Regions from separate parts of the Homo sapiens genome. Here region 1 is linked to region 2. Evidence: fine-mapped expression QTL. A gene starts in region 2. The other region holds a variant in brackets. All regions are shown on one strand. Distances are between the middles of the regions. Region 1 overlaps ARHGAP15 (Rho GTPase activating protein 15). Region 2 holds the start of ZEB2-AS1 (ZEB2 antisense RNA 1).

What was found. PIP is the estimated chance that this variant, and not a neighbour inherited with it, causes the effect.
Region 1: its variant is the best candidate, but not a certain one, in a credible set for the expression of ZEB2-AS1 in tibial nerve (GTEx, PIP 0.59).

The regions. Positions count from the first base shown.
Region 1 is chr2:143,667,267-143,670,183 of GRCh38, forward strand. All of the region lies in intron 12 of ARHGAP15 (Rho GTPase activating protein 15), which reads left to right. The region is part of intron 4 of ARHGAP15-AS1 (ARHGAP15 antisense RNA 1); the gene reads right to left. Among named protein-coding and RNA genes, the nearest start is that of ARHGAP15-AS1, 110 kb to the right of the region's middle. The variant AAAATT/A (reference allele first, on the strand shown) is at 1,644.
Region 2 is chr2:144,518,078-144,520,994 of GRCh38, forward strand. ZEB2-AS1 (ZEB2 antisense RNA 1) reads left to right here and starts at 1,537. Exons shown (of 4, transcript NR_040248.2): 1 at 1,537-1,597; 2 at 1,882-2,033; 3 at 2,138-2,208; 4 at 2,677-2,822. It overlaps ZEB2 (zinc finger E-box binding homeobox 2), which reads right to left and starts at 2,042. Exons shown (of 10, transcript NM_014795.4): 1 at 1,862-2,042.

The DNA.
Region 1 (2,917 bases), 850 kb before region 2:
GTAGGGACATGGATGAAATTGGAAATCATCATTCTCAGTAAACTATCTCAAGAACAAAAAACCAAACACCGCATATTCTCACTCATAGGTGGGAATTGAACAATGAGATCACATGGACACAGGAAGGGGAATATCACACTCTGGGGACTGTGGTGGGGTCGGGGGAGGGGGGAGAGATAGCATTGGGAGATATACCTAATGCTAGATGACGAGTTAGTGGGTGCAGCGCACCAGCATGGCACATGTATACACATGTAACTAACCTGAACAATGTGCACATGTACCCTAAAACTTAAAGTATAATTTAAAAAAAATTAAAAAAAAAAAAAAAAAAAAAGAAAAGAAGTGCTCAAGGGAAGTTTGTTAATTTAATCTTTGGGAAAATGCAATTTATCATAATTTGTGATAACTTATTATAAAATTTCAGAAAAAAAAATACACTGATGGCAGGGCACGGTGGCTCCCACCTGTAATCCCAGCACTTCAGGAAGCCAAGGTGGATTGCTTGAGCTCAGGAGTTTGAAACCAGCCTAGGCAACGTGGTGAAACTCTCTCTACCAAAAATACAAAAATTAGCCAGGCTTGGTGGCATGTGCCTGTTGTGCCATCTACTCAGGAAGCTGAGATGGAAGGATCACCTGAACCCAGGAAGTTGAGGCTGCAGCGAGCTATGTTTGCACCACTGCACTCCAGCCTGGGTGACAGAGCAAGACCCTGTCTCAAAAAATACATATATAAAAATATATTTTTTAAAAATACATATTTTTAAAAAGAGAAACATTTAAAAAAAAAAGTTGAAGGAGAAAGGGTTGAAGCATGTTTTGTAGATTTAGTAATTTTAGAATGGGAACTAGGTAACACTGTTCGCAAATCTGAAATGAAGTCTAAGTTTCAAATCTCATAGGATAGAAAGTACTGTGTAGATATTCAGATTTATCTGGATCTTGACAATATGTTGATGTAACACTCCCATCACTTCCTAAAGGGTTACCTTACTGCCTTGATTCTATTTTCTTTTTTTTTTTTTCTTTTTTGATCATTGCATTGTTTTCAGCATACAGAGCAAAGTTAGGCGGCAGCTTTCAGCTCTGAATGGCTAATGAATTGTTCATCTGTGTGTAGAATCTCCCTGGTGCAAGCTCTGTGTGAGTCTCTATTCCTCCCTATTCAAAGATGACATCGTCAATTGTGGTGATCCTACCCATGTATGCAGATCCAGCTGAAAATACAAATGAGAGACTAGCATTCCTTTCTAAAACCCATGCTTTAAACTATGTCCTTTGTTTGCAGGTGCAATTAGCTAGTTTGACAAGCCTGTTATCTGACTCTTCTTTTTTATACAGCCTACATGACCATCTCAGTCTAAATAAGTCACCCCATTTCTTTTTCTGCAGTTCATCTGTCAGTTATTTTCTTGTCTTAGAGAAGCCTGAAGTTCTGATATACTTGTGGTTCAAATCACTCTTATTGCAATCCTTTGATGAGTAATTTCAGCTTTCCATCTGAAGCTAAATACATAGACAATTCCAATGAAACTCTTCAAGAATTCTCCATAAAATCAAGGATCTAGGCCACAAAATTATTCTGATTTATACCACAAAATTTGGTTCCAATAATATTTCCCAAAGAGGAAGGATGGGAGA[AAAATT/A]AAATTCATTTAGAGGTAAAATATAATTTAAAAGAAATAGTCTTCTCTCTATAAAAGAATCAGAATTTTAATTGTTTTTTAACATTGGAATTGGTAACCAGGTTGAAAGTCTAAACTATCAGGCCTCAGACCCCTGAGCTTAAACCTTAAAACCTTAATTATAGCTAACATTGATTGAGCATTTATGGACCAGGTGCTAATCTAAGCACACTAAAAGTATCCACTTAAACTTCACAGCAACCCTAGGAGATAGATAGTATAATTGTCTCTATTTTTCAGATAAGAAAATTTCAGGTATAGAAAACTTATTTACCTTATTCAGCTGCCCAGTAGAAAGGCTTGTGTTCAAACTTCACCTGTGTAATGTCAAAGCCAGCTTCCTTACCCACTGTACTATATTACCTCTCCCATGTCTCCTATTTTGAGGCATAGTTGGACATGAATCACTTACCTATACCAAGATGGAACCCAGTGAGGAAAGCACAAACTTAGATCTAATGCCTAGAACAGTGCCTAGAGTACAGCAGATTGAATGAATTAATGAATGAACAAACTAAACCTCCCATGTTATGGCTCAGACCTTTGAAGGACAGCCACAAGTATAGGTACCATGTGGAAATTTTAAAAGGTAATGATAGCAACAGCCATGGTTTGTTGAACTACATTTCCTAGTTCACAGATGACACCTTCTAGCTGTGTCCCCACAATGCTGGAAGGGGCAAGGCAGCTCTCTGGGGCCTCTTTCATAAAGGCACTAATCCCATTACCTAATTAGGTTTCAACATACGAATTTTGAGGAAACACAAACATTCAGATCCTAGAAAATATATTTTATAATCCAGCAAAACACTTGCCTCAGGGTATTCTGCTAGTCTGGGAAAATGAGAGTTCTCAGACCTGAAGGACAGGGAGATGGCCACAGGGCTCCAGTATGGAGGGAGCCAGGATATATCTGATCTGAGAACACCAAAATGGAGGCAAAAGGGCACCAAGTGGAAGTCCAGTGTATCATGCTGAAGTTAAGTTTAGGCTGACACAAGCAACAAGGGTAGCATCCTGTTCAAGCTGTGTGTGCAAGGCATGTAGACTAGAGTTTCTTAAATGCCCATTAGTGCTTAAGGTAAAGGCAGACTTCAGACACCAGGGAGGAATTGAGCCCCAGTGTGGCAGTCCATGAATTACCATGGAATAGACAGAAGAGGCTTGAAAACTCTAAGAATCAGACCCCATACAGAAAAGCTCTTGCTGCTTCTCAACATCCTCTGAGCA
Region 2 (2,917 bases):
TTTACCCCACCCCCCCTCGCCACTTTGACAATATTTACTTAAGTATTTCCCCCCACCTCACTCACACACATGCTCCCCCACACTGGTTCCCTTAAATAGTTCCAGTAGAATTTTTTTTTTCCCTTAAGAAAGGAAAGAGAAAGTCCAACCACTACGGCAATACTTTTAAGCTCTACTAAATGATCGTATCCTTTCTGGCTTCGAAACTTTTGTACCTAAAAATCGAGAGAGGCGCTGCATTTTTTCAGTTGAAACTGTCAAAACTTGGAGAAGGGGGACCTCGGAGGCAGGCAGGAGAGGAGGAGAATCCTGAAAACTCGGTGGAGGTTGGGAAGATGCTGTGCCTCGAGGATTAGTTTAAACAGGGGGCTATAAAAGATGTAACAGATGCAAACTGTAACACAAGGGCCATTAACCCTTTCTCTGCCGGGCACACTCAGTCCCCACGCCCCACACCTATTGTCTCCTGTGCTAGAAGCTTTGCAGAAAACCTGGAAAGTGAGTATCAGTTTCCACACATTTGCTGAGAGGGGTGAAGGGAGGGGGGCAGAGAGAAGGGGAAGTGGATATTTTAGAAAGCACCTTAAATTTACCTAGGCATACATAGTAGGAGACTTTTAAGTTTGACATATTTTATCATTTCTTTCCTTGTCCTATTGATTTGAAATTGTTAGGGGAAATCCTGAAATAAAGAAATGGTCACACAAGTGTCTGGGATGAAACAGCTGGCCTGTCTATATTCATCCTGAGACACACGACTGCATATAAATACATGTTTAATAAAGTAAGTTGCTAGTTTTATGGGCATGTGTGTGTGTGAGAGAGAGAGACAGGGCATTTGTGCTGTAAACTTTATCTTTGCCTGTTACTCCTAAGTCTGGAGTTAGTAATCTTGCCTTCATCATTACAGGGGGAGCATGTAAAATATATCAGTAGGTGGGAGATAAACACATTCATGTTAGCCGGGCTCATCACTGTTCCTGGGAACTCCTGCTATCTCTCTCTCGACTTTTCAGTGCCAAAGTATGGAATGGGATATATGTGTGTATGTGTCTTCTATTAAATCCATGTCTATATTACTTTGCCACTAAAAATACAATTTTAAAAGTTATCCTAATTTAAAACCCTGATATCCTGACAGCAGTTTTCTTCCCAGCTGTAGTGCCCCCCCCTCCACTTTGGTAAACGACTCAAGTTCCATGAGGACTTTCACTTCTTTATTTATAATCACAGAAGTGAGGTGTTACTTCACACACATACACACACAAAGAATGAAATAAAGAAATGAAACTCGCTAAGCAGACAAAAACAGACAACTTTCTGCTTAGAAAACAGCCTTCTCGGTGGGAGAGGATGAACTGCCATGTCTAAGAGAAAGACTTGCCCCCGAATTTGTAGGTCTGTAACTGACCAAGTTTTGTAATTATTAACAGGTATTTGCCAAGTCCTAATTGCTGAATATAATGAATTGGAACTAGATGCGAAAATAGAGCAGGACCTCTCCCCTTGATGAGTTTTTATTCCAGCCATATAATTCTCAATAAAACTTTTCCTGGGCTGGATAGCAAAGGACACCTTTGGTTACCTGAATGAACAGGTACAGGGGAAATTATTTGGGGGAGGGAAAAAGGAGAGAAAAGCAAGGAGAGAGAGTGTGAGTGTAAGAGAAAGCGAAGAAGCCACTCTTGAGAAAAGCTTGCCATAAAGGAGCTAAACCCACCTGAAATTCCTACCCACGGACACCCCTTCTCACTTCAGACTCACATCCCCACTCAAAATGAGAAAATTAGAAAAGGAGGATGGAGGACGAGCACACCAAAAAGGGATAAAAAGAGAGAAAAGGGGAGGAAAAAAAACCTACCTGCGAAGTCTTGTTTGTAGTTTTGGCCAGAAATGGTGAGAAGAAAAAGCATGAAGAAGCCGCGAAGTGTGGGGGAGAAAAAGGTGGAAGCGAAGAAACAGCTCCCGGAGCAAACTGTACAAAAACCTCGCCAAGAGTGTCGGGAGGCAGGACCGTTATTCCTGCAGAGCAGGTTAGAACTGATCTCTTTCGGCCACTCCAGGAAACACAAACCTGGGGACGGACTGACGTGTTACGCCTCTTCTAATGACATTTTTTTCTTTTTCTTTTCTGTAGGAGAGAGACGAGAGACCCTGAAACACGCGCCACCTATCTTTGTGGGGAGGGATAATTGAAGCGCCCTGAGCGTGAGCATCATGTGAAAACGTGATCGCCAAGTTTCTCTCTGGGAAAGGATCTGGGATAGATTATACCTTGAAGTCTCCGCAAACGCTTTAGTGGAAGAAATGAAATTCCACCTCCCTCCCTTCCTCCTCTCCCTCCCTTTCGCCTTCGCCTCCCTCCCCCCTCCCTCCCTTCTCCCCCCCTCCACCCCCCCCTCCCCGCCCGTCAAGCCTTTGGCATCATTATCCTCATCACTAAATCCTACAGAGTACAGGGCGGAAAACGGTGCACACCATTCACAGAACTGGAGAACTCCAAGGGGCGAAAGTTAAAGGGAAAGATCCCGGGTCCTCAATCCAGATAGTCTCTTCTTATACAGATATCTCTAATGACCAGATTTGAGATGCACATCAAATTGTGTAGGTATCTCAGTACAGCTTCTGGAACAAAGTTCTCTGCCCTTTCTCTTATTGTTATTTTTTTCTTTTTAGGTACCAGAGCCAGAAAAAAAAATGCTGCATGGGAGCTGCATCTTAGGGCATGTGTATTAGGGTGTGTGCATGATGAATTTCTGGACTGGATCCCAATATTAAAAAGTAGTTTGGCATTTTAATAAAGGGTCTCTAAGTAAATTAAAATAGAACACTCGGTTGGCCGATCTCTGAATCTCTCTACACCTCGGGGAGACCTCACTACAAAGTAAGGGAGAGTGTGTAGGGAGGCAGGAGGAGA